2 separate regions of the Homo sapiens genome follow, and region 1 is linked to region 2. The links come from fine-mapping of genetic effects on gene expression. A gene starts in region 2. The other region holds a variant in brackets. All regions are shown on one strand. Distances are between the middles of the regions. Region 1 overlaps GALNT6 (polypeptide N-acetylgalactosaminyltransferase 6). Region 2 holds the start of SLC4A8 (solute carrier family 4 member 8).

Region 1 (5,371 bases), 71 kb after region 2:
TGTTACTTAAAATGAGGCTAAGTTAAATTGAATTTTAATCTAATTTAAAGGAAATATGATTAGGCACGGTAGCCCACACCTGTAATCCCAGCACTTTGGGAGGGTGAGGCAGGTGGATCACATGAGCCTAGGAGTTTGAGACCTGTCTGGGCAACATAGCAAGACACCCCATCTCTATAAAAAATTTTTAAAAAATTAGCTGAGTGTGGTGCTACACGCCTGCAGTCTCAGCTACTCAGGAAGCTGACATGGAGGATCGCTTGAACAAACGAATTCAAGGTTGCAGTGAGCTATGATCATGCCACCACACTCTAGCTTAAGCAACAGAGCAAGACCCTGCCTCAAAAAAAAAAAAAAAAAAAAAAAAGAGAAAATATACTGGTTGGGCGCAGTGGCTCACACCTGTAATCCCAGCACTTTGGGAGGCCAAGGTGGGAGGATCACTTGAGCTCAGGAGTTTGAGACCAGCTTGGGCAACATAGCAAGACCCCATCTCATAAAAAAGAATTTTATATACATATACATATATATATACACACATATATATATACACACACACATATATATATATGTATATAAAATTCCAGCATAACCCTGATATGGTAACAATCCTGAAGGCAGCACATAAATGAGTAAAGTCTTGGCATGGCCTCACATTCACTCTCCTCCCCAGGAGACCATGCATGGTAGACAGCTCAGGGCAGGTGGCTTTGGAAGGCTGGGGGTGAACTCTCCACCTGCTTCTCTTGTCTTGATTTCCAGTACTTTGAGTACACAACTCAGAGGGACCTTCGCCACAACATCGCAAAGCAGCTGTGTCTACATGTCAGCAAGGGTGCTCTGGGCCTTGGGAGCTGTCACTTCACTGGCAAGAATAGCCAGGTCCCCAAGGACGAGGAATGGGAATTGGCCCAGGTGAGTCAGTGTCCAGAAAGCTCAGAATCAAGAACTTGAGGCCAGGTGTGGTGGCTCACGCCTGTAATCCCAGCACTTTGAGAGGCCGAGGAGGGCAGATCACGAGGTCAGGAGTTCGAGACCACCTGGCCAACATGGTGAAACCCCATCTCTACTAATAATACAAAAATTAGCTGGGCATAGTGGTCGGCGCCTATAATCCCAGCTACTCAGGAAGCTGAGGCAGGAGAATTGCCGGAACCCAGGAGGCGGAGGTTGCAGTGAGCTGAGGTCGTGCCATTGCAGTCCAGCCTGGGTGACAGAGCAAGACTCCATCTTGGGAAAAATAAAAAATAAAAAGAGAACTTGAGGCCACATCGGCCCCTCTATATTTTCTTCATTTTCTTCCTGAGACGCCATGGGGTGGAGTAGAGCAATGTAGAAGGTAGGTGAGTGTGTGTGTGGCCACAGGCAGGGTTCTTCAGGCTTAAAGGGTATTTGGTGATGACTGATGTAAAAATGGGGTGACAGGTTATGGTTCGTGGCTAGCTCTGCCATGGCTGAAGCATTTTTAGGCTGAACCCAATTAGAAGAAGGTGAAGAGTCATTCATAGTTCCTGCTTGTCCTCTGTGTCCTAGGCTCAAAGCTAGGCACTCACATGCCTGGGTCCAGTTAATCTTTCAGAGGCTCTTTCCAAGCAGGAATAGTCACTGTTTCTACAGATGAGCTGGAGCCGGAGGAAGCCCAGCATGTCTGTGACTGGCCCAAGACCCATCACTAGTAAATGGCAGGCCTGGGATTTAGCCCCAGATGGGTCTGACTTGAAAGCACGGGCTCTTTCCATTACACCACACTGCTCCAGGATATGCCATGTAACCGCCACCATGCTGAGCTCAAGCCAGCACCCCAAGTGAGCCTCCCTACTCCACCCCAGCTTAGGAAAGAGGAACCTAACCTGGAGGCTGCAGGGAAGGGAGCAGTCTAAACATAATCCAAGGCAGAAAATTGGAGGTGGAGCAGTGGCCCTGGGTCTTTGAGCCTGGCCATCTGGGGGTGCGGGAGGCCCTGAAAGCATTTTTCTCTCAGCCCATGGTCTTGTCTTTCACCATTTCATCCACTCAGTCTGAAGCTAGGGATGGGGATTTGGCACCAGATAGAGGTGGGAACTCAGGAATGTGTCTCATGAGAGGGCAGGAAAGGAATGGGGAAGTGTCCTCTTTGTGCCTTGTGGGGTTCCCTTGGCTTTTGTCAATTGCACCCCATCGCATTGTCCCTGGTAGCAC[C/T]GTTAAGAGGTCTGTGGCCCAGACTGACCTTTTGCTTTGTCATCTTTTAGGATCAGCTCATCAGGAACTCAGGATCTGGTACCTGCCTGACATCCCAGGACAAAAAGCCAGCCATGGCCCCCTGCAATCCCAGTGACCCCCATCAGTTGTGGCTCTTTGTCTAGGACCCAGATCATCCCCAGAGAGAGCCCCCACAAGCTCCTCAGGAAACAGGATTGCTGATGTCTGGGAACCTGATCACCAGCTTCTCTGGAGGCCGTAAAGATGGATTTCTAAACCCACTGGGTGGCAAGGCAGGACCTTCCTAATCCTTGCAACAACATTGGGCCCATTTTCTTTCCTTCACACCGATGGAAGAGACCATTAGGACATATATTTAGCCTAGCGTTTTCCTGTTCTAGAAATAGAGGCTCCCAAAGTAGGGAAGGCAGCTGGGGGAGGGTTCAGGGCAGCAATGCTGAGTTCAAGAAAAGTACTTCAGGCTGGGCACAGTGGCTCATGCCTGAAATCCTAGCACTTTGGGAAGACAATGTGGGAGAATGGCTTGAGCCCAGGAGTTCAAGACCGGCCTGAGCAACATAGTGAGGATCCCATCTCTACGCCCACCCTCCCCCCGGCAAAAAAAAAAAGCTGGGTATGGTGGCTTATGCCTGTAGTCGCAGCTACTCAGAAGGCTGAGGTGGGAGGATTGCTTGTTCCCCGGAGGTTGAAGCTACAGTGAGCCTTGATTGTGTCACTGCACTCCAGCCTGGGCAACAGGTAAGACTCTGTCTCAAAAAAAAACAAAAAAGAAGAAGAAAAGTACTTCTACAGCCATGTCCTATTCCTTGATCATCCAAAGCACCTGCAGAGTCCAGTGAAATGATATATTCTGGCTGGGCACAGTGGCTCACACCTGTAATCCTAGCACTTTGGGAGGCCAAGGCAGGTGGATCACCTGAGGTCAGAAGTTTGAAACCAGCCTGGACTACATGGTGAAACTCCATCTCTACTAAAAGTACAAAAATTAGCTGGGCATGATGGCACGCACCTGCAGTCCCAGCTACTTGGGAGGCTGAGGCAGGAGAATCACTCGAACCCAGGAGGCAGAGGTTGCAGTGAGCCAAGACAGCACCATTGCACCCCAGCCTGAGCAACAAGAGCGAAACTCCATCTCAGGAAAAAAAAAAAAAAAAAAAGTATATTCTAACAGACAGATCAGAGGTCTAAGAGATCCTCCCTTGCTATTATTACCTGAAGTCTGTAGAACTGTTTACAGATATCTCCTTGACAGGTGTCCTTTATCTTACTTTATCTGTACAGTAATCCTGTGAGAAAGACAGGACAGAAACCACTGTGCCTATTTTACAGATACGAAAACTGAGACACAGGTAAAGGGGCTTGTCTGTAGTCCCATAGCTAGCAGATGGCTGGAGCCAAGACTGAGGCTCGTTCTTCAATGCTGAGCCAGGGCTCCTTCCGCTGCACCACAAGAACGCTAGACCACTCGCCACCAGCCTTCTCATTCCCTCTTCCTCCATTCTAATCATTTCTAGCTGGCTGGCCTCCACAGAGCATAGGAAAACAGCCAGGGCCGGGCACGGTGGCTCATGCCTGTAATCTCAACACTCTGGGAGGCCGAGCCGGGTGGATAACCTGAGGTCAGGAATTCGAGACCAGCCTGGCCAACATGGTAAAACCCCATCTCTACTAAAAATATAAAAATTAGCCAGGCATGGTGGCGCACACCTGTAATCCCAGCTACTCAAGAGGCTGAGGCAGGAGAATTGCTTAAATCTGGGAGGCGGAAGTTGCAGTGAGCCAAGATCGCGCCACTGAACTCCAGCCTAGGCAACAAGAGCAAAACTCCATCTCCAAAAAAAAGAAAGGAAAAACAGGGCCAGGTAGCCATTGTGGAGAGAGCACACTTAGGAATCCTGGGATGTTAGTGTTAAAAGAAAGCTCCTGGAGCCAGTGATTCTCAGGTTTGTCCCAGAACCCTTTTTTCTAAGCCCCATATAAAAGGTAGATTAAAAAAACAAAGTAGCATGAGTGAAATTGAGAGAGGGACAGGTAATGCCTTCCAGCCCCTAACTTCTAACAATCTGGAAGCACAACGTGAAAATCACGTAGCCCAACCCTATCATTTTCATATTATGAAACTGAGTCCAGGTAAGTGAATCTGTCCAAGGTCACCCAGCAAGGTATCAGTAGCCCTGAGGGTAAGGACTCTGATAAGGCTCGGGAGGGTCCTGGAAAGCCTGAGGCGGCAGGAAGAGTGTGCAGAGTTGAGCGTGTCTGGAAGGCTGATCCACTGCTGGGCCCACATCAAAGCCCCCATGGGGAGCAGACCCGACTGCACATGGCTCTTTTGCTGGAAGAAGAGCATGGCTGCGCAGAGGACTAAAATTTCATCTGGGAAGGCTTCTTTTGACTGTCAGTAGCAGGATGTCACCAGATGAGGGTGCTATGGGACCACAGCTGTCTTTGTTCCCATTGCAACTCAACCCTGCGGGAGGCCGCCTACATCCCTGAGAGCCTTCTGGAGCCTACAGAGGAGACATTGGCCAGCCAAAAGGAAAGGAGTGGCCAGGGTACGACCTGGAGTAGGGAAGGGAAAAAGTTCCCGGAAAGAAGAGAATTGGATGAGAGGTCTCAGTGGAAATAAAGGTTTTCTGGCATTGGTCAAGGAAACTCGCGTTGTGTTCTCTTACCTGTGTTGTCCCTTAGCTGAATCAGTTGATTTGGGCTATGAAGAACCACACACATCTGAAAAGTTCTGTTACAGCCACTGTCTCATGTCCCCAAACATTCTCTGGCCCTAAATCTAGCTTATGTATTGTGTCAAGCACGTGGAGACGTGAGACGTCAAACGAGGTCCTGTCCCCGTGGAACTCACACGCTAAATGTAAGCAAATCATAGCAAGCCTGGAGATGCTCCAAGAGGTGCTGGATGAGTTAGAAGGAGCAATTCCTTCCACTTAGGGAATCAGATAAGGCCTCACAAAGATGGCAATGTTTGACCTAAGACCTCGGAAGATGAGTCCTCAGATGGGAAGGGCTCAATAAGCAGAGTTGTTACACAGGCAGCAGCCTGGCAGGAGCAAAGCCACAGAGGACATGTGGCCCCAGTGGGTCTGAGAAACCCAGAGGACATTGGGGTGAGGGAGTGACTGGTGTAGAAGCTGGAAGATCAGAGTTACATCATGAATTT
Region 2 (5,367 bases):
GCTCACATCTTCCAAAACAGCACAGCCTTATGATATTTAGAGGTGATGTCTGGAACCTCTCTGTTTACATCAAGTTACACAATCTGCTCACTTTACAAGGCCCATCTCCACACAGCCTAGTTAGCACATAGAAGGTTTAATTGGTCATTGCCAGTCAGTTGACTGTCTCTCCCCCAAGTCATCCCCATTTCCTTTCCTCCTTCTACCCTCATTCTCTTTTCCTCCCTATCTCTCAAATTTCCATTTGCCTATTACCTGACTCCAGCCTTCATGAGGTCCTACTGTTCCCATTGTATTCCTTTTCTTCTCCTCACCCTACCACCCAAGAAAGTTTCACAAACTAGATATAAAGGAGATATTTTCTATCCTACTCCAGAAGTACTCAAGAATTACTAATTTCACAGAACACTAACAGAAACCTAAGGGTCATGATGCCCTCAATAATATAACCTGTAAACATTCTGCATGTTAAGGACACTGTATCCTCACATCCATTCCAACCTATTCTCCCCACTGCAGCCAAAGAAATCTTTCAGTAGGAAAATCTGGGCCGGGCACGGTGGCTCACGTCTGTAATCCCAGCACTTTGGGAGGCCGAGGCGGGCAGATCACGAGGTCAGGAGATCAAGACCATCCTAGCTAACACGGTGAAACCCTGTCTCTACTAAAAATACAAAAAATTAGCCGGGCGTGGTGGAAGGCGCCTGTAGTCGCAGCTACTCCGGAGACCGAGGCAGGAGAATGGCGTGAACCTGGGAGACGGAGCTTGTAGTGAGTGGAGATCGCACCACTGCACTCCAGCCTGGGCGACAGAGCAAGACTCCATCTCAAAAAAAAAAAAAAAGAAAAGAAAAAAAAAAGAAAATCTGTTCATGATCTCATTTACTCTCTCATGCCCTCTCTCTCTCTCCCGGTTAGGAGAGACCCCCTCTCTCCCCTTTCCCCTCTACTTAAACCCCTTCAGTGGCTTCCCCTTGTTCCTCAGATAAATGTCAACTTCCTCAGCATGGGCTCCAAATGGCCCTGTGTGTTATAACCCCAGAACACATCTCATATACCATTCCCCTCATCGCTCCTTGTTGCTGCACCACACTGGCCTCATTTCAGGTCTCTAACCAGGTGTGTCCCCCTCTGCCACAGGTCTTTTGTGTAGCTGTTCTCTTTGCCTCTCAGGCCCTGTGATCCCCCTCTTCCCTCAGTTAACATTTATTCATCCTTTAGCTCTTTGCCCAGATTTTCTTCCTTAGCAAAATCTTCTCTGAGACCATGTCTGGAACCACTGTTATACACGCTTATGGCACTGCCTATCTTTCTTCAAAGCATTTATCACAGTTTATGATATTTATTTGTGTGATATTTGATTAAAAATAGTACTTCTCCCCTCCCCCACTAAATGATACGCTCCAGGAGGGCAAGAACATTGCCTATTTTTTCTTACCATTGTATCCCAAACAGAGATTGAATACATTTAATAGGCTTTAAGGGGGTTAGATATGCATTTTCCAAAATCTTAGATATTGTTCTTTTCAGACAGAGCAAGGAAAGAAGGATGTATCTTCTATTAATTGTAGCAAACTATTAACCAGGAAGAAGAGGAGAGAGTCAGTGTCTGATACTCATTTTGTTGCAAACTCAGGATATTTTCCCTGCCTCCTCGGGGAAACCATCCCTGAGGTCAACATGGCACTTGTTTCCAAGACGTGTCATCCTTCCTGAGATGGCCCATTACCCTCTTCAGAGCCCTGTACTTCAGACTTGCCTCCTCTTCCAACCCTCTTTCCAAGGCAGAAACCACACCATCTGATTGCACAGGAAACGGGGAGTGAGAATTCAATGGGCTGCCACTCATTCACTGAGTGTCACACAATAAACATTACTCCACAAAGCCCTTTCACAAACAGCACTTCGTCTGATCCTCAAAACAACCCTGTGAAGCATGCAAAGCAGACATAACTATTCCCATTTTAATAGCTGGGGAAACTGAGGTTCAAAGAGGCAAGTGACTTACTCAAGGTCACAAAGTTTGTGTGAGGCAGAGGTAGGATTTCAAACTACAGACTCTAACACTTAGTCCAATGCTTTTCCTTACATTAGCCGCCCCAACAGTTCCAATACCAGTTACTTAACCTTGGTTTTTTAATTCCCTTAAATAAGCACCTGTTCCTGACCCCTCCACACATCCTCAGCCCAGTTTGCAGTCCCTACCCAGAAGTTTTCAGGTGTCTGTTCAATGGGGCAGAGGGAGTCACAAACCGGGTCACCCTATCAGGGATTGGTCCCAGCCTCCAGAGTCTTTTCTGGCTTTTCCTCTGAACCACTGAGGAACCAGAAACCCCCAGAAATAAAAACACAAAGAGAAGACGTGCCCCACCAGAGCAAGGTCCCTGCTACCCTTTCTGCCCACGTTCTGGCAGGACAACGCGAGGCCAGACGCCGGCCCCTTCCAACAGAAAGACGCGAGGAGAACAAGAGGTCGCCGCCCGCCGGCTGTCAGGGCTCCTGGGCGGGCGGCGCAAGGGATGCGGCAGAGATGGGCCAGATCCCAGGTTCGGCCCAAGGTCACTCTCTCGCAGCCCTGGCCTGGTCCCCAACCGCCCGGAGCGCCCCCTGGTGTCCCGGGCTGGCCTCCCCTCGCCCTCAGGGAGCGGCCTGGGAAGCCTGGGCTCGGGGGCAGAAGGAAGGAGGGTGGGCAGAGGATGAGGAGGCTGCGCCCCGGGGAGGAGCGGGAGGCGCGGGAGGCGGGGCCCTACCTGATAGCTGAGGACGCCGTCCGGCTCGTTACTCCCGGCGGCCGGCATGGCGGAGCCGAACTAGGTCTCCCCCACGGGCTCCAAGCCAAGCATCAGCAGCCCGCGCCCTCTGGTCGGGTCTGAGCAGATCACTCGAACGGCGACCCCCACCCCGGAGCCAACGGTCAACCATCAACCGCCGCCGCCTCCATAGCCACCGGCCCGCGAGGCATCCGCCGCAACCAATCAGCGAGAGGCCTGCGCAGCCAATCAGGGCGCGGAGCACGGGAGGACGCTGTCCGGCGGTACCCTGGGCTACCGCGGGGAGGGGGAGGAGCCGGGGAGCCAACCGCTCCCGGGCCCGGTTGCCTTGGAAACCGCCTCCCTCCCTTCAGGGGCCTCTGGGCGTGAAGGTCCTTCCAACTGCTTGCTAGAAAATCTCTGCTTCTATTTGCAGCTGCACCTGACCCTTGAAAACTGGGAAAGTGTCGGTTTTGCCTATTCTGATTTCATTCCTTGGGAGATGATGTTTAAATTCCGGGCAAACATCCTTCGCGATTGCAGGAGGAGGTAATTGCGGATGAGGGGAGAGGGCCTTCTAAAATTAATTGTTTTTCCTTGAGCTAATGGCCAGATTAAAGAGCATTAAATTGAAGAAGGCAGGCAGTGTCAGGCTCCCTCACAGTCTCACTATGACTTAGGTCTTCTTCTTGAGTCTCAAGTCAGAAGCAAAACACACGGACAGGGTCGAGCTAAGGATGACTGTTGAAGCAATTCCACAAAAAGGCTTCGAACTTTTCCAGGAAATGATCTAAGGCAAACTATTATTTAGCAACAGAACTACTGACTTAACACAAGGTTAGAATATCATGAATAATGCATTAAATTTGATTTGGATTTATAAGAAAAGAGAGGCTGGCTAAAATCGAAGCAACCCTCTCTCCTCAAGAAAAAGAAAGGTACCTTTTGGGTTTTTTTTGTTTTTTTTTTGTTGTTTTTTTTGTTTTTTTTTTTTTTTTGGAGACGAAGTTTCACTCTTGTTGCCCAGGCTGGAGTGCAATGGCGTGTTCTTGGATCACTGCAACCTCCGCCTATCCAGTTCAAGCGATTCTCCTGCCTCAGCCTCCTGAGTAGCTGGGATTACAGGTCCCCACCACCACGCCCGGCTGATTTTTTTGTATTTGTAGTAGAGACGGGGTTTCACCATGTTGGCCAGGCTGGTCTGGAACTCCTGACCTCAGGTGATCTGCCCGCCTCAGCCACCCAAGGTGCTGGGATTACAGGCGTGAGCCATGGCACCCGGCCGTGGGGCCTTTTGTTTTATATGCACTATCATACCAGACTTCAGGTAGGTCCAAATTGGGGTCAGGGGAAGAATTGTTGCAAATAATTCTCAGCCCCTAAAGAAGCTACAGTTGGGGAAGGTAGTCTGATACATGTTAAAACTTTCCACCCCTGCTTACCATCCTTTGTGTTGGTCCTGAAATTGGAAACAAGGTTGGGCTTCAGTATCCCTGAAGCAGAATTGTATTTCTGATGTCCTGTATAAGCCTCCTGTCTAGTCTCTGCGTTTTAGTGTTCATTGCCACACACTCCATCAATCTCTTTACTAATCCTGTCATCTTGAATCTGGAATTCACATCCTACCCTCATCCCCATTTTTGTCCATCAAAATCTTAACCATCCTTCAAAGTTAATCTCAAAAGCCACCCTCTTCCAAGAAGCCTTTCTTTATTCTACTGTCCCTGATACCCCTAACAGATGTCATCTCACCCTCCCCAGAATTCTCAAGGCACTTCATACCTTTCTTATAGCAGTTGTCATGCTGTGGTTATTTAAGTACTTTATATGTTGACTTTAGCTTACTAAAATATTATAAGTTCTTTGAAAGCAATGATTATTTTTCTTATGCCCTTCTGTATACTCAACAGAGCCTCAACCAATCCCAGGCACATAGAAAGTACTTAGTAAATATGAATGCTTTTAATTCAATCTAATAAAAAATGTATTGAACACCTACTAATGAACAGGCCCAAGTAACACTGTAGAGGCAGAGAAATCTAAAATATATATCTCCAAGGGAGCTTAACAGGCTTATCAGGGAAACAGGGTATATGTTAATGAGTAATATTATATAAACCATGAAGATTGCAAAAATTCAGAAGAGAAAATGATCTTCAGGAAGGTTTCACAGAGGACATGGATTCGAGCTAAGTCTGAAAACATGGGTAAGATTTAGCTGACCCAAGGTAAGAAGAGCAAGCATCTCAAGTCTTAGGCAAAGACTTAAGAATAATAATGCACATGGCCCATTCAGGGTAGCCACAATTTGGGCCAAAGCAGAAAGTTATTGAGAAGAGCAGTGGGAGGTAATAGTTGTGATAGAGAAAGGCTGTGGGCTGGGCATGGTGGCTCACACTTGTAATCCCAGCACTTTGGGAGGCCAAGACAGATGGATCCCTTGAACCCAACAGTTCAAGACCAACTTGGGCCAACATGTAGAAATTCCATCTCTATTTTTAAAATACAAAAAAATTAGCCAGGCATGGTGGCATGCACCTGCAGTCCCAGCCCCTCAGGAAGCTGAAGTGGGAGGATCACCTGAGCCCAGGAGAGGCTTCAGTATACCACTCCACTC

The links. PIP is the estimated chance that this variant, and not a neighbour inherited with it, causes the effect. A credible set is the group of variants that fine-mapping cannot tell apart.
Region 1: its variant is the best candidate, but not a certain one, in a credible set for the expression of SLC4A8 in substantia nigra (GTEx, PIP 0.87).

What each region holds. Positions count from the first base shown.
Region 1 is chr12:51,351,350-51,356,720 of GRCh38, reverse strand. GALNT6 (polypeptide N-acetylgalactosaminyltransferase 6) reads left to right here. Exons shown (of 12, transcript NM_007210.4): 11 at 763-915; 12 at 2,229-5,371. The coding sequence ends at 2,342. Among named protein-coding and RNA genes, the nearest start is that of CELA1, 7.4 kb to the right of the region's middle. The variant C/T (reference allele first, on the strand shown) is at 2,179.
Region 2 is chr12:51,422,419-51,427,785 of GRCh38, reverse strand. It overlaps SLC4A8 (solute carrier family 4 member 8), which reads right to left and starts at 2,955. Exons shown (of 25, transcript NM_001039960.3): 1 at 2,751-2,955. The coding sequence starts at 2,798. It overlaps SLC4A8-AS1 (SLC4A8 antisense RNA 1), which reads left to right and starts at 2,458. Exons shown (of 3, transcript XR_001749147.2): 1 at 2,458-2,546; 2 at 3,187-3,299. RefSeq lists an enhancer at 2,337-2,396 and silencers at 2,507-2,716, 2,987-3,196.